Linked DNA regions of Homo sapiens: all the other regions are linked to region 5. Evidence: fine-mapped expression QTL. A gene starts in region 5. Each other region holds a variant in brackets. All regions are shown on one strand. Distances are between the middles of the regions. Region 1 holds the start of CRYAB (crystallin alpha B). Region 2 overlaps PPP2R1B (protein phosphatase 2 scaffold subunit Abeta). Region 3 overlaps SIK2 (salt inducible kinase 2). Region 4 has its middle 57 kb from the start of LINC02764. Region 5 holds the start of PPP2R1B (protein phosphatase 2 scaffold subunit Abeta).

The links. PIP is the estimated chance that this variant, and not a neighbour inherited with it, causes the effect.
Region 1: its variant is fine-mapped to the expression of PPP2R1B in caudate (GTEx, PIP 0.99). The same link has a PIP of 0.9 or more in whole blood.
Region 2: its variant is fine-mapped to the expression of PPP2R1B in whole blood (TOPMed, PIP 0.96).
Region 3: its variant is fine-mapped to the expression of PPP2R1B in whole blood (TOPMed, PIP above 0.99).
Region 4: its variant is fine-mapped to the expression of PPP2R1B in putamen (GTEx, PIP 0.97). The same link has a PIP of 0.9 or more in nucleus accumbens.

The regions. Positions count from the first base shown.
Region 1 is chr11:111,911,348-111,916,450 of GRCh38, forward strand. It overlaps CRYAB (crystallin alpha B), which reads right to left and starts at 423. Exons shown (of 3, transcript NM_001289808.2): 1 at 177-423. The coding sequence starts at 377. It overlaps HSPB2 (heat shock protein family B (small) member 2), which reads left to right and starts at 1,387. Exons shown (of 2, transcript NM_001541.4): 1 at 1,387-1,576; 2 at 2,094-2,746. The coding sequence starts at 1,483. The coding sequence ends at 2,548. It overlaps HSPB2-C11orf52 (HSPB2-C11orf52 readthrough (NMD candidate)), which reads left to right and starts at 1,389. Exons shown (of 5, transcript NR_037651.1): 1 at 1,389-1,576. RefSeq lists an enhancer at 2,138-2,791. The variant G/A (reference allele first, on the strand shown) is at 2,745.
Region 2 is chr11:111,734,166-111,739,268 of GRCh38, forward strand. PPP2R1B (protein phosphatase 2 scaffold subunit Abeta) reads right to left here. Exons shown (of 15, transcript NM_002716.5): 15 at 3,712-5,103. Among named protein-coding and RNA genes, the nearest start is that of PPP2R1B, 30 kb to the right of the region's middle. RefSeq lists an enhancer at 879-1,515. The variant G/A (reference allele first, on the strand shown) is at 2,162.
Region 3 is chr11:111,647,364-111,652,466 of GRCh38, forward strand. The region is part of intron 3 of SIK2 (salt inducible kinase 2); the gene reads left to right. Among named protein-coding and RNA genes, the nearest start is that of SIK2, 47 kb to the left of the region's middle. The variant T/A (reference allele first, on the strand shown) is at 2,513.
Region 4 is chr11:112,610,111-112,615,213 of GRCh38, forward strand. No RefSeq gene overlaps it. Among named protein-coding and RNA genes, the nearest start is that of LINC02764, 57 kb to the left of the region's middle. The variant G/A (reference allele first, on the strand shown) is at 2,730.
Region 5 is chr11:111,763,994-111,769,096 of GRCh38, forward strand. It overlaps PPP2R1B (protein phosphatase 2 scaffold subunit Abeta), which reads right to left and starts at 2,396. Exons shown (of 15, transcript NM_002716.5): 1 at 2,255-2,396; 2 at 1,301-1,391; 3 at 812-912. The coding sequence starts at 2,368. It also overlaps a transcript of ALG9 not described here. RefSeq lists enhancers at 1,422-2,325, 2,212-2,391, 2,412-2,461.

The DNA of each region.
Region 1 (5,103 bases), 150 kb after region 5:
ATCAAATAGAAACAGGTGATGGGGGAGGAAGGCACTAGCAACCTCCTCATTTTTCTTCACATTTGGACACACATGTGCCTAAAATGGTTTAGGCAGGGTAGGAAAGGAAAATGGATGGAGAAGTTTCCAGGAGGTTCCAGTAAGGACTCTCCCGTCCTAGCTGTGGGGAGACTCACCTCTGAGAGTCCAGTGTCAAACCAGCTGGGTGCCCGCAGGAAGGAGGGTGGCCGAAGGTAGAAGGGACTCAGGGAAGTAGACGTCGGGAAAAGATCAGACTCCAACAGGTGCTCTCCGAAGAACTGGTCAAAGAGGCGGCTGGGGGAGTGGAAAGGAAAGAAGGGGCGGCGGATCCAGGGGTGGTGGATGGCGATGTCCATGGTGGCTAGGTGAGTGTGAGGGGTCAGCTGGCTGGTCAGCTCCTTCAGCTGCAGCTACAGCCAGCCCCTTATATATGCAGTCTTGTGAAGCTTCTGGAATGGTGATGTCAGGGGTTTTATTATCCTAGCTCACCAGCAGTTCATGGAGACTTGTGATCCGGGATTTGGCAATGTGACACATACCCAGTACTCACTGAGCTAAGAAAAGAGAGACACAAACACGTCTGAGCCGGCCAGTGACTTGTCATGGTCTTGTTTCACTAGCTTTCTGTCCACACCCAATGGCACCCACCCCCACCCCTGTTCTCTGAAGCTGGTACAGAGTCAGGAATCCCAAGCAGGCACGCGGGGTGGGGGGAGGATGGGAGCCGGCGTAGTGTGCCCCTCCTCCTCCTTTCCAGTCCTGAATGCCAGGGGAATCAGGCCAGCAACTATCTTGGGCCTGGGCAGGGACTGGAATCTTCCTAGGCTGAGCCCCAGGGACATTAACTCTTTGTGAGTCCTTGGAAGAGAGCAGTGATGGTCAACATGTCAGCACCAGCCATCTGCCTCGTGCCCTGGGTTGACCTGGGTTTAGGAGAGGATCCCACATCTGGGCAGAAAGACCCCACCCCCTGAAAAAAGAGCAAACAGATTTCTTGCATCTTTCGTTCTATGTGGCTCTCAGAACATTAAATCCAGGAGTGCTTTAGGAATTGGGTGCACAGTGCCTGCCACCGAAGAGGAGAAAATGAGGTGTGGAAACGTGCAAACCGTTTGTGAGGGTCTCAGCGAGGCCTCTTCATGCCCCAGGCACCACCAGCTCCCCCTCCCCAGCTCGTTCCCAGCCAGGACCCTCAGCTGTCCTCTCAGGCCCCCTGCGACAGCTGAAGAGTGTGCGGGGGAGGGGACTAGGGGTCCGGGCGGCGCTGGTCACACCCTCGTTGCTCTCACTCAGGGCCCCCACTCCCAGCCCCTCCCCCCCCAAGAGGCTCGGCACTATTTTGGGTGGTGTCGACCCCGCCCCCACCTCCTATCGAGCCCTGGCTCTCCGGGCAGCTGGAGGGGTCGCGCTGCGCCTGTTGGGGCTGCACCTCGGACCAGGGCTTCTGCTGCATCTGCAGCCATGTCGGGCCGCTCAGTGCCACATGCCCACCCGGCCACCGCCGAGTACGAATTTGCCAACCCGAGCCGCCTGGGTGAGCAGCGCTTCGGAGAAGGTATGGCACAGACACCACCCCCTTGCCCCCCACCCCCACCCCCTGAAATTCTGGGCTGACCTCCCAACGTTGCTGGCCTCCACCCCACTCTGGGCTTAACTGATCTCCTGGGACCAGCCACCCCCCACCCCAGACTACCCCTCATCCCCTCCAAGCAGAGATCTTTCCCATTCCTGCTGACCTCAAGACACACTTGGTGCTTGCAGTGCTGATACCTGCTCTTTGCCGGCCTGGGTGTGCCTCCTTGTCCCCCTTCTATCCACCCAGGCCGTTTGGTGCCTCCTCCTCCTCCCCCTCCTCCTCCTTCTCCTCCTCCTCCTCCCTTTCCTTTCCGTTCTCTTTCCCCTCTTCCGAGCTGCCTTCTCCTCCTAGCTACAGTGTGGCCTCCCTCCCGTTCCCTACTCCTCCTGACTCCCCTCTTGCTCTTCCCAATCCCTCCTCTCCAGATTTCCCATTTCGCCCCTGTGCCAGCCTCATCCTCCCTCATCCTGCCTCTTGCCTTCTCTCTGCCCTTTAGGCCTCCTGCCAGAAGAGATCCTGACCCCCACACTCTACCATGGCTACTATGTCCGGCCTCGGGCCGCCCCAGCTGGGGAGGGCAGCAGGGCAGGGGCCTCCGAGCTTAGGCTCAGTGAGGGCAAGTTCCAGGCATTTCTGGATGTGAGCCACTTTACCCCAGACGAGGTGACTGTGAGGACTGTGGATAACCTGCTGGAGGTGTCTGCCCGGCACCCCCAGCGCCTGGACCGCCACGGCTTCGTGTCCCGAGAGTTCTGCCGCACCTATGTCCTGCCTGCTGATGTCGACCCCTGGCGAGTCCGAGCTGCTCTCTCCCATGATGGCATCTTAAACCTGGAAGCACCTCGGGGTGGCCGACATTTGGACACAGAGGTCAATGAGGTCTACATCTCCCTGCTCCCTGCGCCTCCTGATCCAGAGGAAGAGGAGGAGGCAGCCATAGTTGAGCCCTGATTGCCACAGACCCAGCACCCAGCAAATCCCTCTCTACCTCCCAAGGTGATATGGGCAGCTGCCCACCACTCCAGAGGTAGCAGCATCCTTGGGGGAAGGGAAAGGTGCATGGTCCACAATGTATGGTTTGGTCCCATGGGACATGTCATAGCCTTGGTTTAGTTTTGGGTGGAGCTGAATAAACCCAAATCTCAGG[G/A]CCTTGTTTGTACTGCTCCCTATTCTGTGGCCGGGAAGCTGGGATGGGGAGGGAGGGAGGAGGTCACAGCCAGCTAGACAAAAAGCTCCTCAGTTTGATGTGCCCAACGTCATAGGACCCTGAGCTCGCACTTGGATGCTGAGATCACACCCGGAAGCTGACTCTGGCTCCAGATCAAATTCCTAGCCATAATTTTCTCACAATGCAACAAAAGAGAGAGTGATCCTGGGAGGGAAAAGGGATATGCCATCCAAACAGCCCAGAGGGCACTGTCTGAGCTGGTGATTAGAGACACAAAAACAAGGGTCTCCAGACTGTCTGGCCCTTTTTGGGTAGGGGCTGGGAAAATGGTTTTTGGCTGGTGAGAGTTGCCTAAAGTCCTGGAGTGAATACTTTGTTTTCATGTACTAAGGTCTGTCCACTTAAATGGTCACTGATTTTGAGAGCCTGAGTATGCATACACAGGGCACAGACACAAAGCCTCTCCAATTATCACGGAACCCCATTACCTTCCCATCCTCTGGGGGTACGGTGTATTCAGGAAAGCCTGAGGTCTGTCCCCTCAGTTATTCTCTGCAATCAAGAGAACATCCAGCTACATGATTTGGGGGAAGTGTCCAAAAGACCTTCCTGCCTCCAAATACATATTTCATTAGGCTGTGGTAGATACCTACAATTCTTCCATTAAAGCAGTTGTTTCTTGGCTGGGTGCAGCAGCTCACACCTGTAATCCCAGTACTTTGGGAGGCCGAGGCAGGAGGATCACTTGAGCCCAAGAGTAAGAGACCAGCCTGGGCAATAGAGTGCAACCTTGTCTCTACAAAAAAATAAAAATTAGCCAGGCATGGTGGTGCATGCCTGTAGTCCCAGCTACTTGGGAGGCTGAGGTGGGAGGATGAGCTAGGGAGGTTGAAGCTGCAGTGAGCTGAGATTGCGCCACTGCACTCCAGCCTGGGTGACAGAGTGAGACCCTGCCTCAAAAAAATTAAATTGAATTGAATTAAATTAAGTGGTTGTTTCTTAACTTTTGGGAGTTATAGACCCTTCTGAAAATCTGACAAAAGCTATAGCTGCTCTTACCAGAAAAATACATATGCTCCCAAATTTGGCAATACAATTTGAATAGGTTCCCACAACTCTTAAGACCCATTCACATACCCCCCTTAGGGATCTGTGGACCTCCAGGATAACAGAACTCACTTGAGGAATTCGACTTTTGGTTAAAAGATTGCTGTCTATTAAAAATGAAAGCATGCCCCAGAGAAATAACATTTGACATATTTAACTGTTCATTCATTCATTCAGTAAATATTTATCAAACCTCATGTAATACACCTTGGGGGATATACATTGTAAATATAAATTATAAAAACTATTAGCTTTTATTGTCAACTTTCCAGAATCTAGTTGAGAAGAAAAATAATAAGAAAAGGATTCTACTTAGACTTCAACCAAAATAGCTTCACATTGATATGTTTTGTAACTGAGCTTTATTTAAAGGAAAGGGTTTCCTAGCTATAAGAAATTTGAAAACTTCTGATTTAGTCCAAATCCCCTCTCCATTCAAATGCTTTTAAAGTTATTAATCAACTTATTCGGGGACATTCTGAATAACAGACAACTTAGAACTTCTCACGGTAGTCGTTTCCATGTTCTTTCTTTTCTTTTTTAGACAGGGTCTTGTTCTGTTGCTCAGGATGGAGTGCAGTGGCATGATCATGGCTCACTGCAGCCTCAACCTCCCTTGCTCAAGCAATCCTCCTGCCTCAGCCTCCTGAGTAGCTGGGACTACAGGTGTGTGCCACCACGCCTGGCTAATTTTTTACTTTTTCTGGAGATGAGGTCTCGCCTTGTTGTCCAGGCTGGTCTTGAACTCCTGGACTCAAGCAATCCTCTATCCTTGGTCTGCCACAGTACTGGGATTACAGGTGTGAGCCTCTGTACCTGGCCTTCCATTTTCTTTTTGGTCTTAACTGACTTAACCGTTATAAATTCCTCCTTTTGTTGAATCAAAATCTGCATTTCAGTAACTTCTCTGGAAAACAAACACAATGGTTTTTTCACTGAAAATCCTTCTGATATTTAAAGATAACCATCCTGTCTTCCTGAGGCTTCCCTTTCCCAGCTAAACATGCCTAGTTCTTTTTTTTTTTTTTAAGACAAAGTCTCTCTCTGTCACCGAGGCTGGGTGTACAGTGGTGTCATCTCCCCTCACTGCAACCTCCTCCTCCTGGGCTCAAGCAATCCTCCCACCTCAACCTCCTGAGTAACTGAGGCTACAGGCATGCGCCACAACACCTGGCTAATTTTTTGTAGAGACTGGGTTTCGCCATGTTGTCCAGGCTAGTCTTGAACTTCT
Region 2 (5,103 bases), 30 kb before region 5:
AGTCCCACTCTGCCTATCTTACTTTAACTCTTGCCTGCCCCAACACTAGGTACAGAAAATGGCTGCTTCTTGCCTGTGAGCTCTGTCTTCACTGACTTAAGGGTGGTTGTGCTGTTCTGAGCATCTGCTTCAGGCTAAGAACTGGGAACTCTGCCCCAGGATTTCTGAATTTTCGGAAATGAGTTCTAGGCATCAGACATGGGTACCACAAACATAAGAACATCCCTGAGAATCTATGTCACAGGTAGGAGGACTTTTTTATCTCCAACTGTTAGGTCAAGCTCCAGTGTGGAAAAGACTTGGAAGGCCTGGGGGAGTCTTTTTGTGCGGACAGCTCGGCCCCTAGGCCCCACAGTGGAGAGGGCACTGACAGGAGGTCAGCCTAAGGACCTGCTCCCGTGTGCCCTGTCACCAGCCTACGTCTGACTTCCCCATGGACTTCAAGGTCCAATTGCCTTAGCTGGAAGCCACTGGGGATGGGACTGAACATCCCTGGGCTTTGGTCTTTGTCATCAGTCCTCAGTTTGACTGGACTCACATCTCCTGTAGTCTTTCTGGGTTCAAGAGAACAAAATCCGCTGGCCAAGAGGTTGGCCCTTAAGGAGCTCCTCCCCTTCACACACTCCCAGCAGAGCTCCTCAGAGCTGCCCTTGAGACCCCCCAGGGCAGCGCGAAGGCCCTGCCAGCCTAACTCTGTGGGAGGAACAGGACATGCAGCTAGATGCTAGAGGCTGGCTCTAGGACAAGTGAGGTTCCTGAGCTGCAGAATGGCTCCAGCCTCAGGCCCAGAACAGCCTGGTTCACCAGCAGGTGCTGATTAAATCCAGAGAAGAGACCCGCATCGAAAGGCACAAGTCAGAGACCCTCAGGGCCCAAGGGACTCTCTGAGTTTGGGGAAAATAAGGCAGGCAGGAAAAAACCAGAAACAAGAGTAGAAGGGGCATGGAAGGCAGAAGATGGTCTTAGCTGGGACGTGGCGCAGGGGCTGGTCTCGGGTCAGTGTGTGTACAGGACAGACTGTGTGCAGAGAAAAGGAAGAGGAGGAGGGTGGGCGCAGTCAGGCAGTGTCTGTAGCCATTATTTATGGATGCTTCACTTGATTTTAGTCTCCAAACCTGGGCTCGGCATGGAGACTGAATGTCCCTCACAGCTGCTCCTTCCTGCAATAACAAGACTGACATCACTGTTGTCAGGGAAATGGTGTTTTGATTAAAATCATGTGACAGCTACTTGGTGATTCAATAAACAAATCCCCTGTTAACCCCTGCCTGACAAGGCCCGTCAGCAGCTTCAGCGGGGGCACCCTGTGTCCCGTCCAGGAGTGAGCCGCTGCCGGACCCGCGGCAGCAAGGTGTGGGAGGTGACCCTCGCTGCTCCCTGGCAGATCCTGCCTGGGTGGACACATGTGACATCCAACACAGAGGCACCTCCACAGACTTCAAGGGTGCCAAGGAGGCGCTCTTCACCAAGGGAGACTGGCTCTCGCCCTTTCCCTTTTCTCTTCAAGTGGCGGGCCCAGCCCCAGGGATGTCCAATGGCTCCCTGAGGGCCCTGAGGCTGGCTGAGAACTGACAGTTCCCAGGGCTCTCAACAGCAGCGCGCTCACGCTCACCCCATTCGGACAGATTGGCAAGTCCACTACGCACCCTAGACAGTGAGGGGTTAAGAACAATTTCTGGTTGCAATTGGATGACTTCCTGGATCACTCACTTGGCTGCTGGCCCCTGACACACAGGGCTCTGCCTGGCAACAGCCAATTCCCTTTCCATCTCACCCTCGGGTCATTTTCCTTAAGTGAAACAAATGCATGGAAGGCTCCCTGAGTCATGGGGCGGGGGATTTTTCTGAGTTAAATGAACTGAAGCCTCAGAGGCCTAGCACCACTGGGCCTCCTTTCCTGGAAAAAAGATTCCCAAATAGACATGCCAGGGGTTGGAGGAGATTCATGAGGGACCAAAAAACAATGATAGCACCTACCACCTAGGGTGGGTGAGGATGACATGAGATTTGAAGTGCCTGACAAGGTGCTGCAGTGACCAAGGCTCGAGTAACGGCAACTTATTCTCAGTAACTCCTCGGCTAGCAGAGGCAGCCCGGGCCCTGTCAGAGCTGAGCAGGTCAGCCATGGGAGGGCCGCCTCAATGATCCACACTCAGATCGG[G/A]TCATACCACGCATTCATGGCATGAGCAGCTGGCTCTGAATTTGTAGGAAGACGTAACCCCTTTCTTCCCAAAGAAGTCTGTGGTTTAGGCCTAAAAAATGTGTAACTGTCACTCCCACTCCTTCAGCCAAGCTCTCCTCCCTGAGGCCCAGTTCTGTGAAGACGACATGGACTCCAAGGGCTGGCCACCCCTGGAATCCAACTGGACAGTGGTCACCCAGCCCTTCCTCTCACTGTGCGGCCACTGCAGGAACGGCTGGAGCTGCCCACGGACAAGTGTGCAGCCCCTCAGGAAGGCAAGAATGTTCTAAGATGAGTGACTGCGATTCTGGACCTCAACAAAAGGCAAAAAACGTTTTCATGGTTTCGGTTCACATAAAATGAAAAGCCATGTGACTTAAAAGGCAGCCTTTTTGATGTTACTTCATTGAATTTTCACTAAGCGAACCTACTAGAATGGGTGTGAGAATGTCAGATTTTTCCCCATGAACTAAACGCAGTCTGGCATCCGCACGAGGCAGCCAAGCCCTGCTGCTCTCCTTTTCTGAATGTATCTGTAAGCCACAAATCGCCCTCCTAATGAATGGCCCTGGGGCAGTGGCTGGCACCCACTGACTGCTGAACTGGGGCTTTTCACACCATTTCCACACAGAGTGGCATCCAATGGGGCTTGTAGAACATCTGAGCTGTTACAGAGAAACTTGCAACTATTTTTATCTTGAATGGAAATAACTGAGAGGAATTATGGCAAGTCACTTCTATATTATGTGAGGAAAGTGGGAACAGCCCCTTTTTACAAGCAATTCTTCACCAAACCCCACTGGTGTCCTCTGTATGGGCCTCGCTGTTGGACTGGGAGGTGATAGGAGATGGGCCTCAAGCTACAAGAGTGACAGCTCTGGCCGGCGACCCACCTCTCAGAAAGCATTCCCAGAATGAAGTAAGCCAGCAACAGGCTTTAACCATCTACTCCCGGCCCTTAAAATTGGACTCTTCCCCTGGGGACAAAGTGAGAGGTGCTGCTTCTCCGCCTACCCTGTGGCAGCTCCCTGCACACCATGCCACCCTGGCTGCCCGCAGCCCTGAGGGCAGGACTTGACCCCAGGCTTCCGGGCACTTACCTTCCCCATGTCCTCTCCAGGCACTGTGGGTCTTGGGAAGTGGTTCTTGTCAGCCCGAGGGACACTGGGTTCTCCACTGTCCTTCACAGGAAATTCTAGCTTCCTCAGCCTTTGTGCCACCACTAGAGACACAGACAGTGGCGCTGTAACTGTCCCTGACCAGGGCACATCCCTCCCAAGCCCACCTGTGCTTCCCAGCCAGGATGCCCTCAGTTGTGCCAGCAGAGTTGGGTGTCCAGCAGCAGCCTACAAGTATATGGGGCACTGGGCAGAGAAAGCTGGGGCAGCCCAGGGTCGTGCTGAGGTGCCTTTCCCTCGGGGCCCTGGAAAGCGCCACCCCATCGGGCCTTTTGGTGTCCACCTGGCTGTTCCCCACATCCTGGTCACTGATGGTCTCCAGAGCCCCAACCACAGGAAAGACCTGGCTCCTTTCAGAACTCATATCAGTTTAAGAGAACAACTCTGGAGACAGAAATGGCTTGGCTTTCCGACGCAATGAGTAATTAAACTCTATTCGTCCTCCGGAAGATTTCCATCCCAACTGAACGTTATGTAATTTCCTGGAAACAGCAGGCTCGTGGAGGCAAACGGGGGACAGTGAGACTATTCTAGGTACAGAGGACTGGAGGGAGACATGCGAGGGAAGAGGAAAGAGGAGAGTAAGGAACTGGATGGAAACAGGAATACTGGAGAATCAAAGGGAAACAGTTACATCACATCAGACTGCAGTCACCTCAGCTGCTAAACCAGGAGAACACTGGGCAACAGGGCCTCTCCCTCTACAGTTTCATATCCAAGCAGTGGAGAAAAATAAGAAGCTTTACGATAAGAGTGTCACCATTTTTAAAAGTCAGAGGAATTTAAGTAAAAGGCAAGAGGACAGAACAAGCACCTGACCTGTTTGGCCACCCTGCCCTGCCATCGCCACAGGGACAGAGCCAATGTGACGTCTAAGGGCAAGCCCCAGCCTTTCAGTTTAGTGACAACACAACAGTTAACAAAGGAACAAAAGTGCACCAGGTTAACCGCCGGGTCAGGAAGGACAGGCTTGCTTCCCTGGAAGTCTACGCAAGCAACCTGAATGCCTGGACAAGCCAGCTCAAAGGTCAGGCTGCCGTCTCTGTTGAGTCAGGACAAGTTGTCTGGCAAAGACCCCTGGGGCTCTGCATCACAGTGGCTGAGCTGTGGTATTTCTGTGAGCTGAGGGCAGCCCGTTATTTCAACAAGACCTCGTTAGAAACCACATATTCACCTGCCTTCCTTCTTATGAAACAAGATGCATCCTCAGGTTCACATCTTCTTGGTAGCACAGAGAGAGAAACAAGACCTGGTCTCTTAAACCTGTGAGGGGTAAACCCCACACAAATTACAGAGAGAAACACCAAGGTGAATTCCACTGTTGCTGAGACATTTTTATTGGCATAGGTTATATGTTTGTGTGTGTGTGTGTGTGTGTGTGTGTGTGTGTGTGTGTGTGTCTGCTTCATTTTTCTAATCAAACAAACAACTGATGTAAGCTGCCAAGGATGAAAAACAACATTACATGTCTGAAGCAATCAGACAAATCCACACAGAACTGTAGTCTAAGCCAGGGGACCAGAAAAGGGCCACATAAAGCTTGTTTCCTGAAAGCAGGAAAATCTTTCTGTCAGTGGGAGAATAAGACACAGTCTGGTTCTTTTGATTATTTGTTCCATGCACACATTGGAGGATATTTTAGAAATTCATCCATTGAACACATTTTTATTGAGCACCTATTATGTGCACCAGACACTGTTCCAGGCACTGGCGATACAGTAGAAGATAAAACAGACAAAAATA
Region 3 (5,103 bases), 120 kb before region 5:
ATCAGATTTTTTTATTTGAGTACTAGATTTAGATACAGTTAGCCAAAATACCCCTTTTTTCCAGACTGGGCAACATGGCGAAATCCCACATCTACAAAAAATACAAAAAATACGCCAGGCATGTTGGCATTGAGACTGCAGTGGCCATAGTCACATCACTGCACTCTAGCCTGGGTGGCAGAGGGAGACCCCCATCTCGAAAAAAAAAAAAAAAAAAAAGGCTGAACACGGTGGCTCACAGCCTGTAATCCCAGCACTTTGGGAGGCTGAGGCAGGTAGATCACGAGGTCAGGAGATCGAGACCATCCTGGCTAACACGGTGAAACCCCATCTCTACTAAAAATACAAAACATTATTAGCCGGGCGTGGTGGCAGGCACCTGTAGTCCCAGCTACTTGGGAGGCTGAGGCAGGAGAATGGCATGAACCTGGGAGGCGGAGCTTGCAGTGAGCTGAGATTGTGCCACTGCACTCCAGCCTGGGTGACAGTGCGAGACTCTGTCTCAAAAAAAAAGAAAAAGAAAAACCTCCTTTTTTGTCATGAAGATGGTTTTTTTACTTTTTTTCTATTTATAGATGAAAATAAGTCTGCAGTCTCAAAAATGGAGTATTCCATTTTTATCATATAGTAAATGAAATTTCTCTTTCTAAATCAAATGCAGCTGGAAAAAGAATTACCCTTGGAATTAGGGAATCTGTAATGTTAAAAAATAAGTTGTTTAAGGATGAGCTTGCAGTCAAAAAAAGAAAAAATAAAGAAAAAATAAAAATAAGTAATTAAGAGATTTTAAAACATAGTTGTAGAATACTATGCATGGTATGATTTCATTTGGGTTTTTAAATATATTATTACTATTTACTATTTAAAGCAGTTTATTTTAATGCCTTAGTTCTCTTGAGCTGCTATAACAAAATACCTTAAACTGGGTAACATAAGCAACAGAAATTTATTTCTCGCAGTTCTGGAGGCTTGGAAATCCTAGATCAAGGTGCCAATGGTGTCTGGTAAGGACCCACTTTCTCAGATGGCACCTTCTCACTGCATCCTCACACGGTGAGGGGACAAGTTAGCTCTCTTGGGTCTCTTTTAATGGGCACTAATCCTGAACAGTGCCCTCATGACCTAATCATCTCCCAAAGGCCACACCTCCTAATATATCACATCAGGGATTAGATTTCAACGTATTAATTTTGGGGAAACACAAACAAGACCATAGCATATAATATGGGCTCCTATTGATATATACTGTAAATATATTTATACATGAAATATATATATTTCATGTATATATATATATTTTCACAGACTGGTGAAAAAGTTTAGAAAATATGAATCAAGCTGTACAGTGGTTGTATCTATGGAGTTGGGATTATGGGGAACTTTCATTTGTACATTGTATGTTTGTTCTTGTGTTTTAAATTTTTTCACAATGAGTATACACTGCTTTTCCTACTGGAAAAAATAGGTACTGTATTTTCATCTGGAACAAAAATGAGACAGCTCTACAGTTCAACTTAGAGACATGTTAGCATGTAGATCTTTTGGAGAAGCTCCAACGAGAGAGGAAGCTAAGGCAAGTGTGTCTTATTGCTGCAGTATATGTCTCCCTACCAATTATGGTCTCCTGCTCAATGTGTTCTTGAATTGTTAGTCAGCAAAATGAATACTTTTTACTCTTTCCTAAATTCTGTCAGGCTACACATATTTTATAATTGATATGTAGCTTGTCATTCCAGTGTTCTAGTGCCCCTTATATTTCAGCATACTGTAGCTGGTTAAGATAGTGTCACATAGTTTCATTCTTTTTTCTGTGCATTTGTCTCTCCATCTGTGAGTACAGCGTTGTGTTGATCCTTGCACATATTCCATGTATCTCTCTATACTCTGACTTTGAATCTGCTAATCAAACACTGTACACTTTAGTTGGTGACCACTGTGTCCTAAAATAATATATTGTTACTGTAAATACATGATAAATTATTTTCTCTGAATCAGGTAACATCTCACTATAAATGAAGGTAACCACATGAAGGTATTTGAATATATTACTTACAGTACTTGAATATAGTATAAAGTTTTTACTTTATACTATAAAGTATAAAAGTAATACTTTTATACTTTTTTCCCTAATAAGGGAAAAGTCACTTATTAGGTACCAGGAGACTTGTGTAATTATCCAGCTCTATTATGTACTTGGGTAGTTACATTATCTACTTGGGGCTAATAATGCTTGCTGTGGTAACCTAACAAGGAATGAACATTCATTCATTTGTTCATTCATGAGGATTAAGCAAGATAATGTATGTGAGAGTATTCTATAAATGGTAACATACAATGCAGATGTAAGTCTGTACTTCTGTTATTGTGCTAATACAGAGTCTCTGTGATGGCATAGGTGGCAGTGATGTCATGATGGTGGTGGGAGTCCAGAAGGAAGATACTGCAAATACTTTTTTCAACATCACTTTCTCATAACTAACAAGATCTTTTCTCCAGAATAGCTCTATTTTTT[T/A]AAAAAAATTAATTGTGCTAGGAGCTCTCATAAGTATTTGCATATCCAGAAGTTGACCTAGGGAATAAAAAGAGGCAGAAAAATAGTTTAGTGGCTTACTAATTAACACAAATTTGAGTTATATGCAAACTCAGTAGTGTCTTCTCAGCATTAACTATAGACAGTTCATTTGTCCTGAAAGCTTTATTGTTTGATTGTGATTGTGTAGATCTTTCTCCCATAAAACATTGGATTAGTAGGTGTACATATATGCTAAACAACTAAAATACAGCTTAATATCCTTAATTTAGATACATTTTAAATCTTAACTTTAGCAATTATCTTTTCCTTTGGCTTCTCTGGGCAACTAGATTTCAACTCATGACTTGATTAAGCCATCTCCATTTTGAACTTTCTGAAAAAACGGAAGAAAATCTCTGATTTTTCATAGTAAAACATAAATTTAATTACTGGTAGGTATATATTCTACTTGCTTTTTTTGAAAGCTTTAGGGAGAATTTCAACCTCTGCATTAAAAGTCAGTAAGAAAAAGCTCTTACGACAATAACTTTCCCCTAAAAAGCACAAATGCTTCTTTGCCTGTCATTTAAAAAATATTTATTGTGCACTCAATGCAGAAATTGTAATGATATGATGCTCTAGTAGAGTTATAAAATCTTTGACGTAATTATTAGTTTGGAGAAAGTAAAGGCCTAGGTATCAATATCTAAAAATATATAAACATTTTTTTGATCTTAAACAGTCATTCTCAACCTCTTCCATTTTTTCTATTCATACCTCTTATAATTCAAACAGCAAAATATAAATCCTTTGAATTGATTATGTTGCTTGTTTTTTCCAAGTTACTCTATGTTGAAAATAGGAAAAATATATAACTTTCATAAAGTTATATAAGGTAGATGAAAGTAATAGACTTGTGAAGCAAAGTTGTATTCAATAGAGCTAAAACCAAAGTGAGCTCTACTTTAATGTTTAATCAAAGTCCTAAAAATACGGTTGGTCTTAGTAGGCATGAGTTTTCTAGAAAGAGTACTATTTTGTTGAATTTTGGCATAGAGGAAAAGTAATGTTTTATATCTTTTGATTTTATACATGAAAATAAAAATGATTTTTACCACTTTTAATGGACCTCTGTCTTTTAGGAGCACATCTGACTTCACGTTAGAGTTATATATTAAGTTTTCTCAAGCTACATATTCTTTACTGAGATGCTTAATATTTCACATATCATATAAAAGGAAGATTGTTCTTTAATTTACTAAGGTAAAATTAACCAAAAGTAATTTAAATTTCAGTTATTAGTGTAGCAATCTGTAGGAATTAGGTAGACTCTGAGTTTGAATTGGAAACTTGCTTGTATTTAGTTGTGTTTTTTTAAGGTAAAATAATGTGCTTACAAAGACATGGAATCAACCTAAATACCCATCTATGATAGACTGGATAAAGAAAATATGGTACATGGAATACTTTGCAGCCATAACAAGAATGAGATCATGTCCTTTGCAGGGACATGGGTGAAGCTGGAAGCCATTATCCTCAGCAAACTAATGCCGGAACAAAAAGCCAAACACCACATGTTCTCACTTATAAGTGGGAGCTGAACAATGAGAACACAAAGACACAGGGCGGGGAACCACACACCCTGGTGCCTGTCAGGGGAGGTGATGGGAGGGAGAACATCAGGATAAATAGCTAATGCATGCAGGGCTTAATACCTAGGTGATGAGTCGGTAGGTGTGGCAAACCACCATGGCACACGTTTACCTGTGTAACAAACCTGCACATCCTGCACGTGTATCCCAGAACTTAATAATATGCTTACACTTGATGTGTATATAGGTAGCCATTGTTTGTACATTCATTCATTCATTTAACAGATATGCATTGAACACCTACACTATGGCAAGAACTCCATTTTAATTATTTTGCTACAGCGTAAGTTGCTATTTGGCTTTGTCAGTGGCAAATACATTATTCCAGCCAGGAGGACTTTGCAAGCTCTATAGCTTTTTTCTTGGTGAGCTGATAATTTTAATGGAAGTCATTTGCTACTCCAAAAGCTTTGCATGAATGCTGCATAGGAATAATTAGAAGCTGTAACAAGGAGTCAATTCTTTGTACAAATATTTATCTCACATAACTTTATATGATTGAAGATAATACATCGGTGCTTCTAAGATCCCACCTAAACACAATTTCTTTACAAACCTGTCAAAATTATTGAGTATCCGCTGTGTAAAAATACAGAAATAAAAAAGATAAATATTACATATATACATACATATATATACACATACATATGTGAAACAATGTAATCAATCTTGAGATAACAAAAAACACATAGAACTTCAAGTCTTGTCATTAGATACACTAAATCTGTGGGAAATTGGCAATGAAAAAGTTATGACCAAAATGAATTGCTTCTGAGTTTTTAGCCATTTTTTTCAGTCAGTTGGGACATTCATATGTGAGGATTATGGAATGTAAGGAATGACAGAAATTGGTAGAGCAGCGAAATCTAGTCTCCCAGTTTGCAGTTTTGCCAAGAATTGCGGTGAGAGATTGTATGTCATTAATTTCATCTTGGGGCT
Region 4 (5,103 bases), 850 kb after region 5:
AGTTGGATTCATGGACAATGAGTAGGGTATGTGATTAGGTGCAGACACAGTGGCTTAAGTAACACTGGGCTACCTGTTACTTGTCTCCATAGTGGCGTGGAAGAGGGAGCCCATTGACCTCTAATTGGCCTTTCTATTCCCTAGATAGAAGCACTCTATTTGGACTGGTTTACAGAGGAATGGTTTAAAGCAGCTTTGCAAACAAGGCTCAAATGTATCTACCTTCTTTTCTTACTTAAAAAAGGGGTTTTAATACAAAATAAGAGTTACTCTCATTCACCCTAGAAGAATAGAAGGGTAGGTTTTCTTGCAAAGCTGGCCTGTCAATTTCTTTAAACAAAAGCACTGTGAGAGTATCACCTGTAAATCATTTTGTAATCTATTCATCCATTCACTCATTTGACAACTGTGTACTGAGTTCCCTTTATATGAAAAGCACTGTGCTAGTACTTGGGAATAAGCAAAGAAGCCTTCAAGGAACTCATAAGAGAACAAGTCAGGTTAACACACATCTGTCATCAAAGGAGGAGAGAGCAACAATAGAAGTAGGGGATGAACTGAGCCTCTTCTATTTCTGGGATGTGTGTCAAAGTTTCAGAGTACAGATGGTGAAAAAGTGTTGTAAGATGGAGCCAGGGACTGGACCTTCATTCTCTGTGAGATTTGGCATGGTATGACCACCTCATGACTAATAAATATCTCCCTCCAAGGTGTAGAATGAAAGTTACAGAGAGAGAGATAACTGGGGTAATAAACATACAGCATCTCTCTTGGTCTCCAAGTCTCCAGATCATGTAAACCTCCAGCTCTGGGACCAGAATTCAAAATAGTTACTTTCCATGTGTGTGTTACCTGGCCGGATGTAGCACCAGAACCAAGGAGGAGGGAAAACATGTCCCTAGTCCCATCTACCTCCTAAGTCACATTCATCTGCTCTAAGTCCCTCAGTATCTGGCTCCCTGGAGGCAGCACCTTCACTTGAAAACCAGGTGGCCCAATAAAACTGAAGGCAAACCTGAGAGCAGGGAGGTCTATCACAGGAGTTGAAAAAGGGCAACGGGGGTGGAAATCTTTTCTATCCAGCAGAAGAGGAAATTACTCATTTCCTTTAAGGCTAAGTTACCCTGTGTTAGGGTGGACTGCAGAACAAACTAACATAGGCAACAATAAAGCCCAAGCTGGAAAGCTGGGATAGAAACTCTGCCCCCAACAGGGGTCTGTAAATAACTGTTGCATGGATGAATGAAATGCATATGTGCGTACCATATTCTTCTAGCCCAAGATTTGATTTGGTTTCCATGTCTAGAGGCCAGATGCCTACTGGGAGGTCTTCCAAATCACCAGTCTTGATTTTTTCTTAACTGCTCTCAGGGGATCCAGGGAGTGATTCTGGTATCTGGCACCAGCAGCATGGCACTGTGCCCCGAGAGTATCAATGCACTGCTCATATTGGCTTAGGTCCATGTACCCGCTGAGCAGAGCCTACCACCCAGATGGTATAGACTTGGATTCCAGTCCACTTGGAATGGCCATGTCTTGCCAACTCCATCTCCAAGGGGACAGTCTGTACAGAACTCACATGCCAAAATACCCGGGAGTTTGCCAACCAAAAGGTGGTGAGTGGTCTTGTCCCATAAGCGCCACTTAAAACAGGCAGCAGATGGGAAACTGGGGCAGGAGGTGGAGAACAGCTGGATGATATTTGCTGCATAATAGCTCTTAAGGGATTTGAAAATCATTGTTTAATTTCCCTTCTCACCTTCTCATGTAAACAAGTGTCCTATATCAGGGGTGTGGAAATCAGAATTTTTGGTGGTTGACGCTCATCTTCACAGGCTCTGCAGCCACCTTCTTCCTGCCTGCCAATACACACACATGCATGCACGTGGACACACACAGACACGAGTGTGCACCGATGCACACATACGCATTCAATTCTGTCGACAGGGGCCTTATTTCATTTATTAAGTATCTAAAGCCTTGCTAGGAGCCTAGGCTTCCTCTCTGAAGTCTCTTTTAAAAATTAAATCTGGCTCTTTGGGGCTGCAGCAGGAAAACGGAATTTGAGATACAGTAATTCTAGATATTTATATCCTCCCATCATTTGCTCAGTTAGTCTTCTGCAGCTGCGGTTTGTTAGGGATTATCCCACCAAAAGGAATAACAGAAATACACATATTTAATAAGATTTTTTTTTCTCCATTTCTGTTTCTGGTTCTAAATAGGCACTTGGAGGAAGGGAAGCTCTACCATAGGAGAGGATCTCAGGGCAAGGAACAGTTGTCCAGCAGCACAGGGTTGGGGGTGGGAGGGGGGAGGGGAGGGGAGGGGACGCGCCTGCAAGGAGGGAGGAGGGAGGGAGACGGGAGCCTGGAAAAGCTGGAACTGGATCCTGGTCCCAATGTTCATACAGAGGAGAGGACAGTGGTTCTGCAAATGCCCCTTTACAGAAGAATTTAAAGCGCAATTCTGATTTCTTTAGCCCATGGTTTGAAGGCCAGGTGTTCTGTGGTCTGAGCAATCCATTACCTACCTTTCTTCATCACTTCTGGGTGGAGTTCATTTGGCCCCAAAGAGAAGTTCCTGATCTTGGAGGACTCTCCCTCTCTCACTTTGACTTCATGGAGCCTTTCTTCCTAGGGGTGGAAGGGCTGGCTGGTAGATACCTGGGTATGGGTTACCACACCTGCAGGCCCCAGGGGCGCACAAACACCCTTGGCCTCAATCCT[G/A]AATGACCTCCAGGTGCACAAATGCTCCAGGGCTACATTTCCATTGGCCTTTTGACTCCTATTAACAGTGTCCTGGGGACTTTTGGCTGGGGGTGTTATATAAATGTTTTTTGAGTCTCATCTGCAATAATCCCTCAGTCCAGGCAAGGGTTTATTCTTTCTTCTCTGAGAAAACAGAGAAAAAGACAAGACTTTTCTTCTCTTTAAAAGCTGTGCCCTTTCTGTTGAGAACCACTCACTTCAGCACTCTGCAATGTGGTGAATCTCCCCAGGCTAACTCCTCCTATGATGGGAGCTCAGCATAAAAATTACAGCTGCCTCAGAGGCCACCTGACCCTGATGCATCAATCCCTGGAGTGAGGCCAAATCACCACTTAAAATGACAATTCTGTACAAAGTGGCACAATGACATGTTAAAAATATATAGATGAATATAGATGTAATATGAAAATATGTATTTTTACTGCTCTCCCCATCAGAAGCAGGCATGTTAAAGGTATTAATCGGCATTCCTCTCCAGAGGGATCCTCTAGTTATGTGCTTTGGAAGCCAGACAGGAAGTGTGAATCATGCAGCAATGCAAAATTAATCCAGACAAAATGAAAAATGAAATGATGCAGCCAAGGTATCTGGGATGGAGGGGCCAGGAGGGTGAGAAGTCCTACCCTGTCTTCCCTGGCTCTCTGCGGGAGAGGAAAGGCTTTATTTGTAGGGGGTGGTTGCTGAGGGACCTGGGACCTCCCCAGAGCAGGATGAGTTGATATGTTCTCTCATTGCCGAGGAGTAGAATACCTGGGGAGGGAAGGTCAGTGCAATGGCCCAGGCTTCCAAACGGCTGGCCCTGACTTTGAGGGCACCTCGAAACTGGTTGAAAGCTTGGCAGGTATACCCGGAAGACACAGATGTGGTTCCTGTCCTCCCACCCCCACAGTGCTGGCTCCAGACATGTGCAGAGTTGGAGGTGACTCAGACCGTGCACGCACCTGTCCCCAGCAGATACTACTCCTATTGTAGGGAGTGGAAATTTCCCAGAGTAGATTCCTTCTTCAGAGGTGGGAAACACAGAAACAACCTTTTCTTTGTATCCAGATTTTTTTTATTTTTAAAAAAGACAAGGGCTCTTTCTGTTGTCCAAGCTAGAGTGCAGTGGTATGATCATAGTTCACTGTAGCTTTGAACTCCTGGGCTCAAACGATCCTTCCATCTCAGCCTCTGAAGTAGCTGGGACTACAGGTACATGCCACCACACCTGGACAATTAAAATTTTTTTTTTTTTTTTGTAGGGATGGGGGTCTTGCTATGTTGCCCAGGCTGGTCTTGTACTCCTGGCCTTAAATGATCCTCCCGCCTTGGCCTCCCAAAGCACTGGGATTATAGGTGTGAGCCACTGTGCCCAGCTTATTTGCAGATTTTAATTTCCTAAAAGCCTACCCATGGGTAATTCCTGAGTGTTTTTCTCAAATAACCCCTCAGTTCAGACAGGAGAGATAATCTTTTGTTCCTTCCTGTTTAAGGACAGAAAATGACTTTTCTTCTCTTAAAGTATCTTTCCATTGCAGGCAACTTGCTCTGGGTCTTTGTAGTGAGATGTGAAATCTCTGGTCCTGACAGACTCCATGGATCACATTTCTGGAGTGAAAGAGTAATTAGGTAGCACGCTTTAGTGTTTTTCAGCCCCTTCTGGGTTTACTGGCAATCACACTGCAGTTTTCTCTTTCTCTGTCAGCTTTAGTATTTGCTACTCTGTCTATATCCTTTTTACTCTTGTTTTAGTTTTTGGAGTTCTAATGTCTGTCTTTTTGAAAACTTTTAAATTCAGACATAACCTGCACAGAGGAAACTGTACACTAATCTCACATATACAGCCTCAATGAGTGCTTCTATAGGAAGACGTCTGATAATCCCCTACCTAGGACACAGAAAATCCTACCTAGGACACACAAAAAGGAGTGTACCTGAACAAGACCAGTCCTGTTTATTCTGAGTCATCTGCTCTTTCTTGAGGCAAATGGGACACTCAGTCAGCCAGCTACCCTGTCAGAGGGAGGGTTGATGGGGCTGGGGGGCACCTACCTTCCCAAGCACAGTAGAGAGCTACAGAGCTCAAGTTCAACCCAGGTCAAGTTGAACAACACATCAAGCCTCCTGGGAGGGCTTCCTCTTGTCCGTTTCTCAGTCCATTCTACCCCACTCCCCAGGCCCAAGCCCATCACTCACTTCTATCATGGTAGTGAGATTTTTTTTTCTGCAGTTTCATATGAATGGACTCATATAGTATAAATTCTTGTGTCTGGCTTTTGTTCATTCAACATTATGTCTTTAAGGTTCATCCATGCTGTTGTGCGTGTCAGAAAGTTTTTTATCTTTAATATCA
Region 5 (5,103 bases):
TACACCCCTACCTTGTCCAACTGTTGAATTCCTGGTCATCCTTTAAAACCTAGTTCAGACATCATCTCCCAAGGTCTTCCCTGATCACCCGGAGTGAATCCCTTTCTCCCTTCTATTACGTGGGTATTTTGTGGGTACTTATATCTTTCCATTTACGACTGCACGGTAATTATTTGCTGACACATAAAGGCAGTGACCTCATTAGATTCATTTTGGTGGTCTTTTTTTTTTTTTAAGAGATGGGGGTCTCACTATGTTGCCCAGGCTGGATTCAAACTCCTGGGCTCAAGTGATCCTCCAGTCTCAGCCTCCTGAGTAGCTGGTACTACAGGCTTGTGCCACCAAGCCCCCTCACATTGGTCTTCTTCAACATTAACATTGTAAACTATGATGTGTCTGATAAAGTAGACTCTCAATAAATGTCAATTAAATTGAACTAAATTCATCAAACTCACAAAGTCAGAAGCAAAAGTTAAACTGACAAAGACAAAATGCTGCTAGGTGAGAATTAAAACTTCCACCATCGCGCGGGGGAACCATAAAAACAATCAAACCCTTTTTCTCCCTACATCTAAACTAATAAGTCTACAGACGCAGAAAAGGAGGACGAAGTTCTCTTATTTACAGAAAAAAAAAAAAGGAGTTGAGTGCAAAGTGCCTACAGTACTTATTCTCTCAATGACTAACATTATGACTATCTGCCCATAAAAAGATCTGCATAAAAAATGCTGCAGTGTGTCTATCACCAAACAATGTATCATTTATACTGCAAAAGTTGTAGAAGGAGGGTAGGCAGCTTATAAATACTCACCAGCAGACAGTGGGCAAAGTCAGGACCTCCCACTAGGCCAGTGAAATTTCCCAGCTGCTCAGCAAGAGCTAATAGTACCTCATCTTCATCATAAATTGTATCTGGAAGTGACAACAACAGGACTCATCAACATGGATAGCTCTCCCACAGCTGGACACTGACACAAAACTAGGAACAGATTCACTATGCGACCAGGAAGGTGACCCAGTCAAAATCCTAACAGCATTTTCTTTCTTCTCAACCGTCTTCCTGTATCTGCTTTGCACAACGAATTAGAAATTCATACTCCCGTATCAATTACTTTCAATAGCTAAATGGTTGATGTTTGAATATATCTAGCCACAACTAACAATATACTCTGTTCTGTTTCTTTTGCACAAAAAACACCTGGCTCATTTTAATGTGGGTAATAAACTCTAAAAAAGTCAGTGTTGAAAGCTACTGGAAAATGGAATGTCCCTACCTTTCTTTAAACAAAGATTCACATACCTGTAAGAAATGGCAACAATTCACTTCGGGTCCTTTCTACTCCAAGTGCTAGGGCAATTGTTGATAACTTCTTAATACTGTTGAGTCGGAGCTTCAGAAAAGAAAGTAGAAAGAAGAACAATGTAAAGAAACGGCTGAATTTAGATCAAAAGACAAAAGGTGCTAACAGGTGAAATTATGACACAGGGGTAAGAATGAAGATAACCTTTCATTTAGATTTTACTGTTAAGGAAGCTCATAAGGACTTCCAAAAAGAAGTGTAACTCGGCCTCACTAGCCGGCGGAGGATTTCCCAGGAGAAACACTCAGAAGGGACCGGAAGAGAAATGAAGGAAAGACAATACAACACCTAGGAAGTAAGATAATTTTAAAAAGAGAGCACTTTGGCAGTGGTGAAGCAGGTGAAACGGTTGAATACAACACCTGTGGTTTCAAAGAAAAGTTCCCACAGAGCGGATACACTACTCGTCCAGATTAATCGGCCATCCCACCCCCGCTTTCTACCCAACAAGCCGAGCCAGTTCCAAGCCGAGATGAAGGGATCCAGGGGCACTTCAAAGGGCTTCTGGGCATCCTGCGCCCCTCAGCCGCTCCAGCCCCGTCTCGGCCTGGCACCGCGCTTCTCCTGCTCCCTCGCCCAAGAGACGCGGCCACCTCACGGCCCGGATGGGGCGCCCAGGCGGGAAGCGGGTTCCCCGACAACCGCCCGGGAAGGGCAAGGCTCCGGGCGGACGCCTCAGGGGGTCCGAAGCAAGGTTACTAGAGAGGTACCCGGGAGGGTCGGGGCGTGTCACCACAGCCCCTCGCGGAGCATTCCCCGCCTCCCCTTCAAGTTTCTGCTACGAGTCCGACTCATTCAGTACCTCGGCCACCCCCACCGCGACGCAGGCCTTCCCCCTTCTCTACCACGCGACCAGCCGGTCTCGCCTCGGGTCCCCGGCCTCAGTCCAGTACCTGCACGTCTTCATTGCGGAGCTCGTCGATTAAAACCGCGATCGGGTATAGCGAATCATCTCCATCTCCACCCGCTGCTCCTGGGCCGGTCCCGAGCTCTGATGCGCCCGCCATGTTCTTTCTCCTCCTGCTGCTGGTCACCGCCTCCCGCCCCGCGCCCAGGCCCCGCCCCGCGCCCAGGCAGTAGGGACGAAGGCCGCCACGCTGGTTTAGCCGAAGTTGGGGAGCCGCGTTTCTGTCCCGATGATTAAGGCTCCCTTCTGACCCCCACTGCAGGAGTTGTAGGTCTGAACTCAAGAAGACGGGTGGGCTAAGAAAGCGAATGGAACCCCTGCGTCCTTTCCCCAGCCGAAAGAAACAGGGACAGGGATTCATCCAGCTCGTTGTAGTCTGAAGGAGCCAGGAACCTACCTGAATGATCTGCGCTGTGCCCTCTTAAGACTCAGGCGGACCAAAGAGAGTGCCCGAGGCCAGGAGGAAAAAGGCTTTAGCACCTCCCCTGACTTCTTCCTGGCCCTGAGCCACTGGATCTCCAGCCCTAATTTCTCCGCTCAGACTCAAACTTCCACAGAACCCCTCCACCTCTTCCCGCGGCTCTTTCTCCAGAATGGTATCTGGCTCCTGCTCCGTAAGACAAATAACGCGGGCGGTGAGAGAAAATGAACAGTGCTGTCCAAACTCCCCAGTCAATATTTTTTCCACGCAAGCTGTTAAAAACATGCTGCTCTCTTGTTTTTGTGTTTCTTTTCAGTTTGGTACTGGAATGGTGCCTTCTGTTGTATTTTCTTCCTCCCATTTTTTAGCTCTTTAGCATGCTAGAAGTACAACAATGAAGCAAAACTAGGACAAGCTTTAATCCTTCCAAATTGGGTGGGGTGGCTACTTTCTTGAGCAAGAAAACCCAAACTGGCCTCCCTAGACCTCCAAGAGTCCTCAGAGGCAGCAAGGGGAAGAGGTGGAGGTCTGGGAGCTCGTTCTTACAAACCTGAATGGAAAGTTTTCACTTACCCCTGTCAGGGTAGCACAGAATAATTAGAATGTTTTGTTTGTTTTAGACTGGAATTTAAGCAGCTTGGAGTGATAACTACATATGGTGATCACAAGCTCCGAAATGGTAATTCTATGTGCCTGATTAATAAAACTATAAATGCAGTGTAGGAGACAAACTTTTTTAAAACATGGGATTCTGAGGCCGAGGCGGGCGGATCACTTGAGGCCAGGAGTTCGAGACCAGCCTGGCCAACTTGGTGAAACCCTGTCTCCACTAAAAAATACAAAAATTAGCTGGGCTGGTGACGGGAGCCTGTAGTCCCAGCTACTCGGGAGGCTGACATGAGAATCGCTTGAGCCCGGGAGGCAGAGGTTGCAGTGAGCCAGGATCGCACCACTGTACTCCAATCTGGGCGGCAGAGTGAGACCCCGTCTCTAAAATAAATAAATAAATAAATAGCGTTCTTGGAAGTAAGCACAATAGAGCCTTTGAATGAATGAATGAAATAATGAATAAATAAATAAATAAATAAATAAATAAATAAATAAATAAATGGGGTTCTTGGAAGTAAGCACAATAGCTAGAGCCTTTGATAGTAATGAAAGTTTGGGAACCAGCAGACCTGAACAGTTTTTCTCAAATTATGTCTGCGAATGTATTCTCTAGGGTTTTAATTTTATTTTCATTTTCATATTTTTTAGATTTGTATAAGCATATTCTGAATTATTTGGGTGACCACCTTACAACCAAGTATTGCCACACAATTTCAGCACCCACATTTACATGTGTGTTTTAGTGCTGCTTTTATTGTTCTGGGATAATGAGAAAAGAACAGAGGTGGTTTTAAAATGACAATGATACTTTCATGCACAAAATGAAAGCCAAATGCATCATGAGATTGCACTATTTGGTAGTTGTAACAGAAAAATGGTGAGAAAATTAAGATATCAGGAGTCACTTGGTGGCATAGGCATGTTGAACACAAAAGAAGCTGAGCTATAGCAGGCAACACCATAGTAACAATACGACGGATGACAGTTTTAGCAAAATACATCATTTGTCACGTTAAATTACTATAATATTTTTAATTGAATAGTATTCATTTTGTGGTTTCATTTGTATTTAATTTGTAAATTTGTTGTGGTTTTTTTTTAGCTGTGTAAGAACTAGAAATAAAAGCACATTTTTCCTACTTTATATTCGTAAATTTAAATAACCACAGCATAATAAAAACAATTTAGCTAAACATGGTAACGCGTGCCTGTCTTCCCAGTTACTTGGGAGGCTGAGGTGGGAGGATCACTTGAGCCTAGGGGTTCATGACCATCCTAGACAACACAGCAAGACCCCCATCTCTAAAATAATAATAATAATGACTTAACTGAGAGTTTTCAGGATTTTAAAAAATTATTGTGTTGTGTGTGTGTGTGTGTGTGTTTAACAAACAGGGTCTTGCTGCGTTTCCCAGGCTGGAGTGCAGTGGCACAATCATAGCTCACTGTAACCTTAAACTCCTGGACTCAAGCAATCCTCCAGCCTCAGCCTCCTGAGTAGCTAGGACTATAGGCATGTGCCACCACATCCAGCTTCGTGTGTGTGTGTGCGTGTGTGTGTGTGTGTGTGTGTGTGTATGGAGACAGAGTCTCACCATGCTGCCCAGGCTAAAAATGGATTCATATATTTAATACTACCCAACTTGGAGAGACAGAGGGCTAAGAGGTTTTTTTAACTTAGTACTTTACCAGTTAGAAGATCAGAGGGGATTCCTGTAGGCATTGAGAGGAGGAATCTGTTTTCTTATACTTTATGTAAAAAGTCACCTGGGGCAGTGGTGCACATGATGGATCACTTGAGCTCA